Linked DNA regions of Homo sapiens: region 1 is linked to region 2. The links come from fine-mapping of genetic effects on gene expression. A gene starts in region 2. The other region holds a variant in brackets. All regions are shown on one strand. Distances are from middle to middle. Region 1 overlaps GRIN2B (glutamate ionotropic receptor NMDA type subunit 2B). Region 2 holds the start of GRIN2B (glutamate ionotropic receptor NMDA type subunit 2B).

Evidence for each region. PIP is the estimated chance that this variant, and not a neighbour inherited with it, causes the effect.
Region 1: its variant is the best candidate, but not a certain one, in a credible set for the expression of GRIN2B in tibial nerve (GTEx, PIP 0.56).

The regions. Positions count from the first base shown.
Region 1 is chr12:13,723,325-13,731,324 of GRCh38, forward strand. All of the region lies in intron 4 of GRIN2B (glutamate ionotropic receptor NMDA type subunit 2B), which reads right to left. Among named protein-coding and RNA genes, the nearest start is that of GRIN2B, 250 kb to the right of the region's middle. The variant C/T (reference allele first, on the strand shown) is at 3,079.
Region 2 is chr12:13,977,040-13,987,759 of GRCh38, forward strand. It overlaps GRIN2B (glutamate ionotropic receptor NMDA type subunit 2B), which reads right to left and starts at 4,563. Exons shown (of 14, transcript NM_000834.5): 1 at 4,303-4,563; 2 at 2,889-3,317. RefSeq lists an enhancer at 8,316-9,515.

The sequences.
Region 1 (8,000 bases), 260 kb before region 2:
AGACACATTTCTTAAGGCTTCTTAGAGCATTTCTTGTAGGATGAATGACCACTTGCTGTCAGCAATGCTCAACCAGATAATGTACCCTTGTATCAATTTTCTCTCCTTCCCTGTCTCACTGTTCTAGTCCCTAAGCCCTGCTCCCTAGAATTACTTAAAAAAAAAAAAACACTTGCATATAAGCTAGTGCCTCATTCTCTGCCATCAAAGGAACTCAGGTAAGATAACTGGCATTAGGAGTGGCTTTAGAAATCAGTTTCTCAAGATGGGACTGTGGAATTCAGTGAAGACCCCACTGCTACAGGTGAGTGAAGTAGTATTAATTCCTAGTATGTTCATTCTTTAGCATCACAAATACTAACACTCTTACCTGTGGTGGATTGGGATAAGCTAGTGGTAGAGGGTAACGTATTGGGTTATGTGGTGGCTCTGGTATTTGAAAAATACATGAGCAGTTGGCTGGCTTTGTCAATACATTTTCAAGTCTTAAAAAAATAAACTGGAAGAATCAAATGAACTGACTATCAACTCAGGAAATCCTGCTGAAAATCAGATCGATCCAGAGGAAAAAAACTAATAGTGGCAATGCTACCAAAGAGACTAAATGCATAACCTTGGAATTCCTCCTTTGTGGAAATTCTAATAGGAAATTCCAATAGGAAAAGAATGGGACCTGGAGACCCACGTGGTACACTTAGGAAGACAGTAAGAGAGGATTTTCCTGAAACCTCTTAGAAGGCAAGAAAAGCTCCTCCCCTCTTGCCAAAGGAAATAAGTCTGCCTTTAAAAACACTGTAAAGAACACATCTGAAGCAGGTGCCTCTCATTCTGACTCCTGTCCTCAATATGTGACCCCATCTCTCTGTAGTCCCTACAGGCCAATAACTAGAGCCAGGTCATAGCACAACTACAGCTGGAAAATACAGTCCCTAGAAGGGATGAATATCTAGGAGGAAATAGTTTACATACTGAAGGAATTGCAATGGAAAGGCCCGGCCAATTACAGGTTTGCAGAAATCAGGAAGCACATGTAGGAGTGAACTTTGAGGAAGTTAGACTGGAGGTAGAATGGGATAGAGAATTTATTGGCACAGCAACACTTTCTTGTGAAATGATATTCAAACTCCTTGCAGAGATGCCTATAGGCATTCCTAATATACTCCTGGGTTGATGGCCTAGGGGATGAGGTGACAAATGATGGGAAGACTTTGGCAAAATATTGAAAAAGAGATCAGAAGATTAAGAAGGTGGGAATGTTAAAATGGAAGTATTAATTTTATGTGAGACTGAAAATTGATTACCTGACTCTGTCCTAAGATGCATTTCTGAAGGCTCTCCTAGGATGCCCTTGTGGGATCCAGCACCTGTCACTCACAGGGTTTCAGCTCAATATGGCTCCTATCATTGGCTTTACCCCCTTCCACATTCACTCTCCTACTCCCTAATTTCTGCTCCCTAAGATTGTTTCCCATATAAACTCCTTGCACAAAGGCTAAGACAGGCTGCTTCTAAGAAGTAGAAATTCTAGGCAAGCTAAATAATCCTGGGACTGCACAGGGCCCTACCACTACCTCCAAAAATTATTGCCAGATGCATTCTACTATGGTGTCTAGGACATAGCAGGTCCCCAGCAGATAATTTGCTCCTCCTTTTCTTCCCCCTTCATCTGAAACAGTAAATTCAGATGTCAGTGAAAGGCAAACAACTTCCTTGAGACAGAGCAATAATGCTTGTATAGCAATTGCAAACTCTTGTGCTCTGTGCCTACCAAAAGCCCCTCCTGAAACCACTCTTCTTTGGGCAAATCTCTGCTCTTTATTTCTCAGCACACCGTTGTCACTATCTAGCCTCAGGATAATAGTGTCCCCTGGAGGGATCAGTTCTTCCTCTGGGGAAATCAAAGAGCAGATCAGGAATTAGTCACCAGATTGTGTCATTTTGAATACAAGGAAGAAAAGAAGAATGAGAGGAAAGAAAGGGGAAGAGGAGGGGTGGAGGAGGATGTGCAGGTAAGAGGGAAGAGGAGGAGTCAGGCAGTAGGGTGGCAGGACTGTATTTGGTGAGTTCACACATTTTATTTTATTTCAGCATCACAATACATTTGCAAGGTGTTCTCCTAGTCATACAGCTGGGGAAGCTAAGGCATATGGTCCCTGTTTTAAACAACCGATTCTTCAGCTAAATTAGCAGCTAGGAGTTACAGGTTGGGCCACAGCATGAGCAAGACACAGGACTTGATCAAGAATGAGGGAAACCAAGCAGATCGGATACACAGACTCTTTACACTTCTGCCTTCTTATAGCTTGTATTTATTTGTTTATACCAATTTATGGAAAAGCATCACAAAACTATTATAGAATACAGACAGCTAGAATATTTTCATTTTCCCTCTGCTTAACAAGAAATGGAGCAATTTCCAGGGAAGAGGGCCCAGGGTTTTGTGAAGAGAAACCCCAACTTCACTGAACCCTAAGTTCTGATGCTGCCAGAATGAAGGAGCCCAGAAATCAGAGCAGGACACAGGGATGGGCAGAGAGGTGAGCGCATGGGGTTAACTGCAAAATGAACTTCACAATGACTCTCCTGGAGATTTCACCAGACTGGAGTTTCTTGCAGATCTTCACCTGCTCTGCTTTATTTCTGGAAGGTCCAGAGCATTACATCACTTCCCTCTGCTTCCCTACTGAGATTTCTACCCATGAATTTCTACCTACATCCATGAAATTGCTAATTTCTTATTCCACTGTATCCTTTCTTGAGTTTCCTGCTGAAATAGTCATACCTCTTAGCCATTTCAGCATTTTTCTTTAAACTAGCTACTTTGTAAATTGTATATTCTTTCTCCACTTCCAGAAATATCAAAGCTTCAAAGACTCATAATAGCCTAGAGGTGAAGGGGCCAATATTTTTTTTTAATTAAAAAAAAATTGTCGGGCACATTGGTTCATGCCTGTAATCCCAGCACTTTGGGAGGCCAAGGCGGGCAGATCACCTGAGGCCAGGAGTTTGAGACCAGCCTGGCCAACATGGTGAAACCTTGTCTCTACTAAAAATACAAAAATTAGCCAGGCATGGTGG[C/T]GGCCACCTGTAATCCCAGCTACTTGAGAGGCTGAAGCAGAAGAATCACTTGAACTCAGGAGGTGGAGGTTACAGTGAGCCAAGATCATGCCACTGCACTCCAGCCTGGACAAAAGAGCGAGACTCTGTCAAAAAAAAGAAAGAAATATATATATATATTTATATATTATAAATATATATATAAATATATAACATTTACTCAAGCCACATACTATTTCTATTAACTTTTTCTTCTTTTTTATAATTTCATGTATTTTTTTAAATTTACTTTTTTATTTCAATAGGTTTTTGGGGAACACATGGTATTTGGTTACATAAATAAGTTATTTAGTAGTGATTTCTGAGATTTTGGTGCACCCATCACCTGAGCAATGTACCCTGTACCCAATGTGTAGTCTTTTATCCCTCACCCGCCTCCGACCCTTTCCGCAAGTCCACAAAAGTCCATTGTGTCATTCTTATGCCTTTGCATCCTCATAGCTTAGCTCCCACTTATAAATAAGAACATACCGTTTGGTTTTCCACTCCTGAGTAAAACTATTAACTAATTAGTTATCGGAGCAATCCTTTCACAGAACAGTTATTATCTCCATTTTTTCAGATGAGGAAACTGAGGCTCAACAAGATTAAATAACTAGTAATTTAATCAAGTTGTGTAAGAAATGGAAAGAACTAGAGCAACCAGAAAGCGGCAGAGCTCAGGATTTGAATATAGGTAAGAGGCTCCAAATTCTTCACTCTTAACCCTAGGGATTGTCTAACCCATTCCCTTCATTTTATAAATAAGGAGAGTAAGACACAAAGAAACTAAGTGACATATGCCACGACAAGGTAGGGTGTGGACTGCCATGCAAGTCTTCTGATTTCCAGTTTAATGTTTTTGTTGCTATACAACACAGCCTTGGTTCCAGACAACAGTTCTCATGTCTAGTCTATGTTTTCTGGTGGTTTCCCATGAGTTCTTGAATTGATCTGAAGATTTACAATTTCACAAAGGATGTTCATTTTATCAAGGCTGTATAGAAAAAGCACTTGAGATTGTAACGATTTACACCTGGTCATTTGGGGCTTTAGCATTGGGTGATCCAAATGCTAGCTCTTCCCTCATTAGATGTGACACAGCTTGTTCTTTAACTCTCTGGGAAATCTAGTTGTTACAGCTGAGGGGACCTGCAAATTGTAAGAAATATATAAATCCCGTTATTACAACAATGATGATGATTAGTCCTGTTAAAAGCACAATGTTTTACCCATTATTTCTGCAGAGTTTGTGAAATGGTGACAGGGATAGAGACTCAGATGGTCATTGTTTCTCAAGGTGGGAGGACCTGATGCTGTGATCACTGCTGGGAAGAGGGAAGGCTGTGAGTAAAAGCTAGGAAATGCAAACCATGTTCCTACTTATGCAAACCATGTTCCTACTTATTAACAGCTCTGGATAATAGCTCTGTGGGGTAAAATGTAAATCTGTCAATAAAGGAGATACTGTGAGTCATGGAAACCTACCTCTGCATGCACCCCTTCTCCTGGGCATGGATAGCATGCATCATTGACCCTTTCACTGTAGCTCTTACTGTAGCATTGTGAGTAAAGCTTATGTAAAACTGATCACATGTGGTATTTTGGCTGTTTTCCCAGCCACCTCCATTGTTGGAGATTGTGGGCCCCTCAAGGGCAGAAACCCTGGTCTTTTATTTCTGTATTTACAAAGCCAGTAACATGGTTGGCACTCAGGAAATGGTGGTTGAATAATGAATGAATGCACGATTTTATGACCTCCTCAGATTGCAATCACTTTGCTTTCATTCAGCAGCCCACGACTCAGATTCATGCACTGAGTAGTCCTCCCAGGGTTGTGGTTGGGTAGGACTAACTTTGGGGTATGGGAACCAATAAACTTTTAGGGAGAAGAAAAAGAATATTGAAGGCTAGAAATTTTTTTCAACCAGTTTTAGAGAACCACTGTTTAGTAGTGCTTTAATATTTCATCATCCAGCCACCAAAGGATGCCCACAACTCCCTACACATCAGAATATTTTCCTTATATATGTTTTAAAAATAAGAAATTTGTTTTGTAGGTAATCTGATACCTAAGGAGATACACAGAGAGCTGTAGTTTGGGGCTTCAGAGACGATTTTTAAGACTGGAAGAGAGAAAGGATGGAGAAAAAGGCCAAAGAGGGGAGATGGCAATTCACACCCTCTTTGTGTGTGCTTCAATATCAAAGATTCCTTAATGGCAGGAACCAGGTGTAAACTTGATAGATCTCCCACAGCATCTATCACTGACTGTACACACAGCCAATGCTCAGTGAAAATTAGATGGATGGATGGAAGGATTGGTGGGTGGATGGATGCACAGAGGGAGTATAATTTGCTATTGCCAGCATTACCAACAGTCACCTGTAAGTTGTTTAACTCTAGTCAGAATGCCCAAATAACCTACCAGTTTGATAATCACTTTCTTACTCATTTATTTCCTCTGGACTCTTCTTCACACAGAACTAATATTCACTTATTTTCTGTTCTTTATTAAATTATTCAAAAGAAACCCTTACCTCCCTCAGCACCCATCAGTAAAACTCTCTCCATACACAAGTATCTTCTCACACAAATCACACAACATAATACAATGGTATTCTCACTTACGGTATTGTGTCTCCATCTGAGAAAGAGATGAAGTCAGAGACAGAGTTAAAGTCTAAGAGGGATGTTTTATTTTTCTGTTTTTTTCTTACTTAGCACTAGCTATCCTGTGCTTTAAACAAAGAAAACAAAATATGCTAACAATAACTTAACATTTATTCCCAGCATGGGAGTGGCGGGGAGGAGGTTAATGTAGATAAGTCCTTGTGTACCGCACTATCAATCATAACTCTTTATCACAAATAATGCACTGCCATTCCCACAGCTGCACCCAGCTGTTTGGGTCATCTTTAGTCATGTCCGAACTCATTCTCAGAGTCCTATCTTCCTTCTGTCTCTCCCGTTTTTATGTAGCTCTCTGTCTGTCTTAGCTTTTGTATGATGAAGATTTTCAAGGCCAGGTTAAGTCTTGGGCTGGGTGTAGCCTGTTCATGGAGAGACAGTCTTGGAGGCGGGTGGAAGGAAGAGTCATTAGGGAGAAAGCTTGGGGAAGATGGAGGCAGAGAATGGAGCCAAATGAATCACCAGAGGAAAGAGAATCACTGGAGAAGTGCAACAGAATATGTAGGAAAGACTGTCTCCCAGATATCTTGCTCATTCGAGAACTTCCAGAAAAGAAATAGCTGAAAGAGATGGAGAATGGGTTTGAGGAAAGTCATACTCTGTTCTGTGAAGGATTCATTTTGCTGCCGAAAGGAAATAACTACAGGAGAAGAGAGAGACAGAAAGAAACCAGGAGTAGGGTGGGCGAGACAAAGAGGAAGCCATATGGGGAGGGGGGTGGGAGGATAAGGGTGAGGAGGAGAGAACATGGCATGCAGTGGGAACACTGTTGGAAACATAAGAACCGCCCCCAGAAACAAAATGCCAGCATCTCTGGGCAAAAAATCTAAATTGTCAGCACATGTATCTTTGCTCTGAGAAATATACACCTATTTTTTTTTTTTTTTTTAATTTCAGGATGATTCCCCATTCCAACATCAGTAAAACACTTCAGACTGAGAGACTCAGATAATTTCCTTCCTCCTATCGTGAAGCATCCCCAGGCCACTTCCTCACTGTTCCTCATAAAGGTGCCATCCCCAGGCTGGGGTCCCTTGGCAGGGAAAATTCAGGAACAAGGAATTGCTCAGATTTCATATAGATTTATGTCTTATAAAACTATAATGGAAGAAATCCATTCGTCTTCAAAAAATGAGAAAAAGAAAATACAATTTTTAATGATTACACTTTCCAAATACAATGTTTTATTCAATTATCAATAATTAATGTCAATATGAGCAGGGATAGCCCAATAAAACAAGCAAAATTAGATACTAATAACCAAACAAGCTGACTGTGTTTTGGTACTCTTTGTTCCAGGCCCCCTGCTAAGCACTTTGTATACATTCTTATTTAACGAGCACAAATACAGTACAAAGCCTTTAGTGTTGCCTCCGTTTTTATAGATGAAGAAGCAAGCCCAGACAGGTTAGGAACCTGGCCATGGTCATTCAGCTAACAAGTATACGGGCCAGGATGTTGAGAGACCCCTGGCATCTAATCATGTGTCAAGGGCCCCAAATCTCATTGTAGGCGATAGTGAGTGTTAAGTTTCTTCCCCACCAAATTTTTCCTACACCTCGTAATAGGGGGAAAATGGTTTGAATCTTTCCCTTCCCTCAAATTTCTTCCTTATGCTGTTTATAAAATGATCAAACATTAGGCAACTGAGCAGAATAATTAAAAAACTAAATAATTAATCCCTGATTAATGGTAGTTAAGTGTACAAAAAAAGGGAAATAAAAGGTAAGGTTGGCCCACAAATGCCTGCCCTCTCTACCACATTTGACATGACTAAACCCCTTTCCTTTCTTAAAATGGTTATTTCTTTTGGCTTTAATAACACGTGCACCTATACAGCTGACCACCACAATCCTCCTTCCCTGTCTCCACCAGGCCTGTGTCCTTCACTGAACACTGTGGCTCCTCCTGCCCTGGAACTATAGCTGATGTTCAAGGCTCAGTCCATAGCTCACTTTTTTCTAGATACTCTTCTCCTGAGACAACTCAGCTTTTCTCAGCTGGGCCACTGACAGTTGTATCCACTCTATGCTGATAAATTTTAAATCTGTAATTCCACGTTCCAGACTGCATAGCTGTAGGCACTACAAGACATCCTCACTAATGTGTCCAGCCCTCAGTTCAGAATTTGATGCAGCTTCTGTGAAAAGCAAGTTCCCACTCCAACTTCTCAGTTTCCACCAATCTATCATCATCCCTTCAATCTTAAAATC
Region 2 (10,720 bases):
ACACAAAATCAAGGTTCCTGCTGTTCATCCCTTCTCCAGAGGAAGTCGCTCTTCTCAATCAGCCTTAAAGAAAAGCACTTGGTGTGCAAAGTATTGAATTGAGGATTTTTTCTCTTTCCCCTCCTTTCCTGTCATTTCACCTTCTTATTGATTCTCTCTGCCTGCGTCCATCCCTGGCAAAAATTGCATATATACATTAGCAAAGCATGGATCTTCAGACAGACAGGCTTCCTAGGGATGGAACCAACGGGAGAGGAAAAATTAGACAATCCAGTGGTACTCCCGGCTCCTCTCCTCACATGTAACACCTAACTCTAAACTGCCACATCACTCTGTGTTCACAGATCCGCCATGCTCTGCCACACCTGAAACAGACATAGAAGATAACCATGTTGTTCTGCTTCTCTTGAAATCACCCACCTAATGTCCTTAACTGTGTCCTGGGAAGTCTTTATTTCCCATTATTATTACTTTTCTTAATTGCACATCATGGAGGTTCCTCGATTGAAATTAAATTTGCTCTTCCTCCCACCAGCCGCCACCTTTCTTTCCCATGTCACCCACATTGTAAGGGGGCTGGCAGAAGGAGAAAAGACAAAATAGAACCCAGTCAGCTCTGTGCTGTGAGGGGGAAAAAGGGGGCGAGAACAAAGGCCCTGAGATGGCTCAGAGCACCACTGAGTCACAGCCTCACAGAGACTGCCTGCGAGGATGGGGAACACCTGCTTCCTCATCAGGGTCTCCAAAATGGCTTTGCATGGTGAAAAGGCACAGACCACCTGTGGCGATTCCTCCTTGAATCTTAACAAGCCTCTTCCAGTTGGATTACCTCTCCTTTCCCTTTATAGCTTCCCCACCCACTTTTTCCTCTCTTCCTCAACTCCCTCCCCTTTCAACCTCGCCTAGTCTTAGGGACAACTAATGATAGCCTGGAACCTGGCTTCATCCATTGGCATTCAAGATAAATGAGGTAGCTGAGATCCTGTCAAACAGCATCCTTGTCAAACCCATCACCAACAAACGAACATTCCAAAGGACCTACTGGGTGTAGAGTACTGGTGTTGTGGCACTGGGGATGCAAAAGGGGCCCTGTGCCCCATCAATGCCCTCCTCTCCTTGTCCATCTGTATGTATGAAAGCATTGCACATGGAGCTGCCTTTCTCACCCATACCTCTTTTCTATTTTGAAGTCAAATTAAGAGTTCATCCTCCTACTTGGAGTGGAAGCAGATGGAGAATGAGTTCAGGTGTCTCTAAGGTGAGCACACACCAGATAACCTCAGTCATTTGTAGACGTGGTGAGAACATGGTTCAAAGTGGGATCCCACCCTCTCACTCTGATTACACCATGGTTACAAAGTAGCATTTCAGCAGTAAAACTCAAAAGAATGAAACCTAGAGAAGGGGGATAGTGAATTTGGATTACATCTATCCTTTCTGGACAATGAAGAACTATCATCTACTGTCATGTTGAGCGACAAAGATCTTTCACCTCTTCCCCACATCCCTTTGGTATTTTGGATTATCAAAGAATTGTTGTTTTAAAATGCCAGAAAAAAAAATTGTGTGTGTGTTGGGGTGGTGGTAATACTTTTAGGAAAAATAATGATGCTAATGATTCTGCTACATGTTTTTGGAGATCTTTATCCCAACCTGATCCCTGCATTTAGACGCCTTCAGAGTTCAGGGACATATGGTCAGTGGAGCAAGGAAAGGAGCAGCCCACTCACCATCATGGCCCTCCAACCCATGAATGATCTGATTCTCTCAAGAGTTGTCTTGGATTGCATGAGTGACTAGCTGAAGAGTCATTAGCTAAGTCTTTTCCATTTCTCCTGCTATTTCTCTTCTCAAGTACATTAAAATACTGCCTAATCACATTTCACATATTGTAAAAATTGATGAAAGGGAAAATGTTAAAGTATTAATTCCATTTTTGAGGGTACAAGACTAATACATGCAAACAGCACATCTCTTTGTTTAACACAAAGACTCACGTGTCGAATTCTGCACCCCTTCCACATGCACAGCATTTTAGAACTCTGCAAGATAGCCATTTTGCAAGAGTGTAGAAGTAACAGTTTGCTTGGAGGATGTGTGGGTATAAATAGATATGTAGACAGAAGGAGAAATTTACAGCTCAAAAATAATAGCACAGGAAAAAATACAAATTAAAAGCAGAATATTGACAGAATTCCTCCTTTCCGAGCTTAAGATTTAAGTCGTTTAACCTGCAGCATCCTTCAATTCCAGGTGTTCTGAGACCAGCCCGATCCCCACCTAGACCTACCCCTCTGCAATAGGCCTCCCGGGATCTCTGGGCCCCTTGTCAACCCTTTAGACAGCAAGTGGATTTCAGGGCAACAATCACAGTAATCTCAATCATTATTTTTATCTGTTTTAAAGGGCATAGAAAGGATGCCTAGAAAGGTAAAGACAGGAGACAGGGAGAGAGGCATGAAGGTGACAAGGGGAATAAAGCCAACCTGAAAAAAAAAAAAAAAAAGGATTTCTAGATTCCCATAAAAATCGGAGCTTTAGTTCTGGGTGAATAAAATGCTATTTAACTGGAAAATCACACAGGTCTCCTGGCTGGCTATGTCTATAGATATAGATACATTCCCCTGATGCCATCCAACATCTTTTGTGCCTGCATACATCCACCCCCACTGCCCCCCAAAAGCCCAAAACCTGTTAGATGAGAGAAGAAAAAGAAAAAACATGGGAGATTTCCTTCTTTGTAATAAGCCTTTTTTCCCAAAACAGCATTATTTTCATATCTTGTGACCTTTTCTTCCAAAAAGATCCACTTGAGGGACTCGAAGAGATAGATAAAATGAGGAATCCCTACCCCAGGTGAGGAAAAAATAAAATAGAATTTGCCCTACCTTGGTTTGTAGAAGCCAAACCTCTAGACGGACAGATTAAGGGAGTGAGCATGTTGGGAATGTCCAGTCCCTTCTTCTCGCTTGCATATCCACATAAGAAAGACGAAGGATAAATGAACGGAAGATAATTTAAAATCCAATTTAGCGTAAATTTTGTTTTAATCTTGTGTCTTGAAGAGATGCAAATTCAAAAAAAAAAAGATTTAATTCAAAGGTAATTCAGGGTATGGAGAGCAGCTCACAATGCAGAATCCAGAGTAATTATTCCGTGTGCATGTGAGGTTAGTGGCTGGAATAGATTTTTAACGCTTCTTCTGGCAATTACGGTTTTTGGTTTTTGGAGCGTTAGTGGAGGAGGCTCTGTGTGGAGAAGCTGGGGGCCGGCTCCGTCCCTCGGTGGAGCATGGTCATTCCCAAAGCGTCCCCTTCCTAAGGGGGAAAAAGAGGCGGTCAGGGCTTGATTCGCGTGTCCCCCGGAGGGTGAGAAAAATGCATTCCGAAAAAGATATCAATTCGTTTTAAGGAAAGGGGGGAGGAAACCCCGCATTTCCCACAGAGTGCACACGAGAGGAATTGAAAACAGCTGGTACCGGTCTATAAATAATTCAGAAAAGGTCTGGCTATACCATTCCTGGGACAGGCACGGATGAGAGGTGGGAAAGCCAACCTGAATGGAAGAGGAGAGAGGGAGGGAGCGAGCGAAGGAGGGAAGTGGGAAGGAAGGAGGAAGGGGGGGAGAAGCGGCACCATACAGCAACACACACTCACACACACGCAGAAACACAATTCCCACTTAACTCGCCAGCGAGTGCGGCCCCCAGCCCCATCTGCATTGCTGCTGACTTGTCTCGCTCGCTCTCCCCATCGCCTCCAGCAGCAGCGCCGCCTCCCACCCCGGGCTTGTGCTGAATGGGTTCTGATTGTGCACGGGGTGCACACTGGGCATTTCTTGGAAGGGGCACACTGACGCGCGCACACACGCCCCCGACGCGCACGCGCCCCGCGCGCACTCACACTCACCCCCGCGCACACTCACCCCCGCGCACACTCACGCTGCCGCCGCGCTGAGGTGCAGCGCACGGGGCTTCACCTGCAACGTGTCGATTGGACGGATGGGCTCGGCGCGTGGGTCCGGCCCGGGGCGCCGCTGCCCTGCCCCTCTGCTAGGTGAAGGGATGAAACCCCCCAAAAGACCAGAGACAGCCCTACCCAGTCACAGCACCCCCTCCCCCACAAAAAAAAAAAACCTTTAAAAAAGCCACGTCCAAATTAGCAAGTGCCGGGTTCTGCTGGATTTCAGAGCTTTACCTCATGCCAGATTCGTTCACGATTTCACGGCTTCGACCCTTTATCTGCCTGACACCCCCAAACCCCTACATTCAAAGGAGAGACTCCAAAGCCCATCTTTACGTACCGGCTCCGAGCGCCTCCGCGGTTGCAGTCTGCGGAGAGGGGTGGCCGGTGGCTGGGAATGGAGGGTTTTCCTTTCCTGCAAAGCAGGATTAATGATCCGTCTCGGGGGTTTTGAAGTTCATGACTCTTCTTTGCAAGGCAAAAGGATATGCATTCGGACGCCAGCACTACTGGATGGTGGTGATCAAGAATCACCCTTGACGAGCACTCTCGATAGAGCGAAGCCCCGAGATTTCCTAGAGGTGAAGAAGCCGGAGGAAGTGGTTTTTGAAAGGGGGTGGGGGGAACCTTCCTTTCTCAAAAAGAGGTGGGGGGTGGAGAGGCAGGAGCCCAGATTCCAGTTGGTGAGGATCGGAGCCGGGGGAAGGGAAGCGGGCGGGGGCAGGCTGTGCAAGTCAACCGCGCGGCAGCCGGAGAGGGAGAGCAGGAGGGGAGGAGGGGAGCGTCAGAAAAATGGGTATTAATCACCGGGGACGGGGGGAGGCGCGGGGAACGCAGGTTGCCTGGTCTGGATTTGGGTCTCACACTCAAAAACGTGCCGCGCACACACACACAGACACACACACACCCCCTACCTCGCACACCCTGACTCCGGGGGGAGGAGAAACCCACGAAGCTGGGGAAGATACTGCTTCTGCTCCCAGGGGCGGGTGTGAGCGCGCGTGTCCTCTTTCTCCACACCCCCCACCCCACCCCACCCCCAAGCCCCTGCACCCCCTCACTCCTCTTGCTAAGACTCTGGCGGAGGCAGCTTCCCACGTCATGTGCTGGGGAAGTGGGGTGGTAAGGTGGATGGAAGGGGGACGGAAGGGGGAAGAAGCTTAGCCCGAGTCCGTGGCGCCTCCTCCCGGCCGCAGCGGGGAACAGCACCGACGGAGAGCGGCTGAGGGGCGAGGGGAGCTAGACAGTGCCCCCCGTGGGCGGCCCGCGGGCTGCGGAAAGCATCTCCAAGGCGGAGCTGTAGTTCGAAATTGAAGACCCTTGCTGTATTTTCCATAAATCAGCCTGTGCTTCCTACGAGCATTCTGTGTGTCGGACGCAGTCTGGGACCGGGTTCTTTCTTGCCTTCAAGGAGCTTAAGATCTATCTGAGCACACGAGGCTGACGCCTAACACAATAGAAAACAAAGCAAAGCAGGTGTCATTCGTGGCTAAATTGTATAGTATGGACCATACGCGTGCTTTTCTGGCTGCTAGTGAAGGCGGGAGGAGTTTGACATTTTTTATTAAAGTGGATCCTGTTATTTAAATGCCTTGAGAAGAGAAGATGGTGAGGCCCGTGAATAATCCCTAAAGGAAACTGGATTTCCTGGCATTTACAAACCCACCCTCTTTGAAAAGGCAAACATCCATTCATTTCTCTTCCTATTGAACTCTTTTATATTTTAATAGCCCTTATCACCACCTGTAGTATTGTTTACTTTTAACATTAATATTATTGTATATGCATCATTTTCATTCTCATCCATTGTCTTTTCAAATATCTAGAATACTACAGTGGTGGAACATTTTCATATTGGTTATATCATGGGCTTCTCACCAGCATTCCTGAGAAGCGGCCATACAAACGCACAGGAGAGAAGGCTGTGTGAGTGGATATACCTAGTGGCTTGGAACTTTAGTCTGTAGAAGCCATCAGATATGTTTTTGCTGTCCTGTAGACCAGACTACTCATACTTCTGAGCTACAGTAATTCTTCTGTTTCCTGGTTTTTCTCAGGCTTAATTTTTGAATCTAACATATTTAACACACACGAACACATAAGCATTGTGTGAAAACACAAATAGAGTGTGTTCACATGCAAATTATTCCTTCTCAGTAATGGTTTTCTATTTTTCTAAGAGTTAGAACTGATCTTTCACTACTTTGGGGAAGTGTCGAAGCACCCCAGAGTTGCTGTGCCCTCTTGATACACAACAGCCAACCCAAGCCCCTCTAATAATTTGTCTCCAGGGTTTTCAAGTTCACCTGCCTATGGGCAGGTTTGCAGTTGTTAGAACGCCGATTCCAAGAGGAGTATAGAATGCAGAAAGCAAGAACCTAATAGAGATTTCCTGAAACACTCTTCCCTGAATTTTCCAGGAAAATTACCGTTACCTGGTCCATTAGCTTCAGAATAACATCCAAGCTCACTCAAGGATCTTCATGGGTTGACCTTGAATCTACTTTTTAAATTTTTATATTTTTTATTTCTGGCTCATAGCCCACGTTCCCCTTCCTATCCTCAGTCCCTTCACCAAAATTATACTATTCTTCCCTATTTTCTTTCCTTTTCCTCCCTACCTGAACCCTGTTGCAATTCCATTCCACCCTGTTCACTTTTCCAAGTGTACAGGGAAGAATGAACGCTCATACTTCCTCCACCTAATTGAGTCCACACTCCTCTTCAGTTTCCAGCTCAAGTCCCACCTCCTCTGGGGATATTTTTCAGTCAACCAAGCCTGAATTGATTTCTGTAAAAATTGCAAGAATTTTGAAATGAGAGATGACACCTCACCACCATCCCCTCCACTCTCATTTTCTGTATTCAGCAATGTATGGAAGAGTTTGCTTGATCAGTTATCAAACTGACTGGGTGATAACTTATTGCATTCATTAACCAGGTACTGGCCCACTATAGGGAAAAATATTACCTCTGTAGCTATTCATGTTGAACCATGTGAGACTATTGATATTCAATCATACGAAATTGCCAATCATATGAAATAACCATTATTGACATATAATAAAAAGGCAATTTCATAAAGTTAAACTTAAAATTATATTCTGGTGTCAATTTCCTGTCTTCCAAACTAGTTGTTTAGCTCCCTAAGGGGACAGACCATAACCTAAGTCATCCATATATTCCCAGTACCTGGCTCAATTCCAGACATGCAGTAGAGGTTCAATAGATATTTTTTATGACTATTTGAAGCCACTTTATCAAGCAGTTTTTCTGGTTCTGAAATAGCTAATTCTAGGGACCACACAGATTGTGAAGTGGAAAGTAATATCCCTTGCCCATGGCATTCATTGCCCATTGACTACTCAATGGAACTAAGATTCGTCTCCTTTTTTTCTGGCTCCTTGTCACTCACTTGCTCTTCTCACTAATAACCTTTGCCTTCATGGACCATAAGCCTCTCAATAAAACTATTTCAGCCAGGTGTGGTGGCTCACACCCGTAATCCCAGCACTTTGGGAGGCCAAGGCGAGTGGATCACCTGAGGTTGGCAGTTCAAGACCAGCCTGACCAACATGGAGAAACCCCGTCTCTATTAAAAATACAAAATTAGCCAGGTGTGGTGGCACATGCCTGTAATCCCAGCTACTTGGGAGGCTGAGGCAAGAGAATCGCTTTAACCCAGGAGGCAGAGGCTGCGGTGAGCTGAGATCATGCCATTGCACTCCAGCACTCCAACAAAAGCAAAACTCCGTCTCAAAAATAAATAAATAAAATAAAACTATTTCAAGGATCGCCCAGATTCATGAAATTCGAAACACCATTTCTTAGTGTCATAAATATATATTTCCTAACTCCTAGTCCAGCAACACAGAAAACAATATTCTAATGAGACAAAATGTTGCATCATATTTCACAGCATTGCTTATTGAGGAGAAGCTCTTGCTTGAGGCTGCTAATGACACTTTTGGAGGTATTCTGCCAACTCAACCCAAAGAGAGGTTCCCAGAAGATGCAAACACTCTTTTTCATGGCCCAATCAGCAAACGCAAAGCCTATGCCTTGCCTGGCCAACAACAACAAAAAAAGTATGTTTATCTGGCAACATCTTTCAGATCAAACACGGTACCAAAGGCTGGAGCCTGAAGTTTATACAATTTGGAGTCCCTCTTTAAGAGAAAGAATAAAAAATTAATTGCAAAAGTGAATATCCACTTAGAAAATAAATCACAACAATTTAAAAATTCTTTAGTAGTTATAAACACCACAAAAATTAAAAATTTAAATAATAATCTCTAGTTAACTGCATATTTCTGTAATATTTGTTTTTGTATTTTTTTTACCACATTCTCTTTGAGTACCTCTTCACATTGTGGTTTAAACTATAATTTTCTATGAAGATACTAGAATCAAAAAAAATAATCTGGGATCCAGTTTATTCTTCAAAATAACTGAAAATTGTTTTTCATTATAGATAATTTAGAAAATTTTCCTATTTATTGGTATTAGTACAGTTTACACTTTTAAGGGTTGTTGTCAAATTTAGAAAGACATTTATCAAATTTCTTTGATATATAAGCTCTCAGGTTACAAGGATTTCAAGTTTTCTTGTTCAGTGACTAATCTTAAATATCTCTTGAATTGATAAAATTCATTAACTAGTTTGTAATTTATTATAAGTTTTATACTGTCTTCATCAATGACAGCATTTTGTCTCAAATGAGCCAAAAATATAAATATTTCCCCAATATGTTCATATGATTCACTTCTCTTCATTAATTTGATTGTCAAACATTCCCAGGGGTCTATTCATTACCGCTATTTAGAATTTCTGTTTTCATCTTAAATAATTAGTTTAGGTATGACTTGGGAAATGCAACATTATGTGGTCTTGGGAAATGCAACATTTGGGCAGGAAAACAAAAATGCCTGTCCTCACCTAGGTCCCTGGGCACAGGCATGGGGTTGGAACCCTCGCCAGGGACCACACCCTTCCCTTCCCAGCACTTCCCTGCCCCGCTTTGGAGGCTTGAGCAGCTTCCAAAGGGTAAACATTACACTTAGATTCTTTAAAGAAAATTCTTACTTGTCATATATGTTTAAAACACTCCATTTGAGAGACAAATCTGAAGGAGAAAAAAAATGTTACAAAATACCAAAGTGGTCAGAAACTTTGAGGTAAGGGAGAGGCAGCTTTTTCTTGAACTAGAATACCGGGACGACACATATCCTGTGATGACACATATCCTGTGACACCTTTGTGTCACACCTGGAAACCTTTTCTTCATTTGGAACAGTGAGCAATAACTTAACTCTATGGAGAACTGATTGCAAGGTGTAGAGATATATCTCACTAAGCCTAAATGAACGTGTTTCCAATTCAGCATTCCCTTAGCTTCATCCCAAAAATGGTCACCACCACTCCAATGACACCCAGTGTGAGGGGAAATCTGACAGGGAAAGTTGGAATGGAAAGAGCAATTTTAAATGATTGCAATTAAGGCCTGGCACGGGTGGATCACTTGAGGTCAGGAGTTTGAGACCAGCCTGGCCAACAGGGCAAAATATCATCTCTACTAAAAATACAAAAACTAGCCAAGCATGGTGGAGCACACCTGTAATTACAGCTAGTCGGGAGACTGAAGTAGCAGAATCGCTTGAACCCGACAGGCGGAGGTTGCAGTGAGCTGACATCCTGCCACTGCACTTCAGCCTGGGTGACAAAGAAGCAATTATAAAATAATAATAATAATAATAGATTACAATTAAAATATGCTACTTTTGCAAATTTCACCAAAACATTTGGGCACATTTTAGGACTTCTCCCAACACCTTAGAAAGGGCCCAAGTGAGAGTCTATGAATTCGAAGCTGTATTAGTTTCAAAGTCAGTCTGCCTCTCAGTTCATTACCTAATGTAAAACAGGCTTGCTGGTTTCTAGATAAAATATTTGAATGATTTTTATCTTTGAAAAGGTAATCATTAAAGGCTCAGTTGACAACACGCATATTAATGTTTTCTGCTTAATCCAATCCATCTTCTTTTGCTTGCAATTCCTGGAGTGTACAGGAAACACAGGCAGAGCATTCAATTTTAATAATTTGCACAAGCATACTAAGATCCTGCCTCTACCATCATTACTCTTTTAAAAGAATCTCTATTTTGTTCTTATCATAATAATATTAATTATTCAACTCAGACAGTCTTTTTCAAAGGAAGAGTTAAACAACCCTCATCCCCTTGTCTGAAGACCTGCTTATCCTCCAACAATGAAAAAATTATTCATTATGCAGGGCATTTTATTGAGCCTGTTGTATACACTGTAACAATACACTTTTAGACATTTACATTGTGTTCTCATGGAAACATTTCTTCAATACTCATCTAAATCTGCCTTTTTTTTTTTTTTTTTTTTTTTTTGAGACAGTGTCTCGCTCTGTTGCCAGGCTGGAGTGCAGTGGCATGATCTCAGCTCACTGCAACCCCACCTCCTGGGTTCAAGTGATTCTCTTGCCTCAGCCTCCCAAGTAGCTGAGACTACAGGCACGCGCCACCACCCCTGGCTAATTTTTGTATTTTTAGTAGAGACAGGATTTCACCATATTGGCCAGGCTGGTCTCGAACTCCTGACCTCGTGATCCACCTGCCTCAGCCTCCCAAAGTGCTGGGATCACAGGCATGAGCCACCGCACCTGACCCTTAAATCTGCCCTTTTCTTTTGGAAATTAATCAAAGGGGCAGGATGGGAGGAGAGAGAG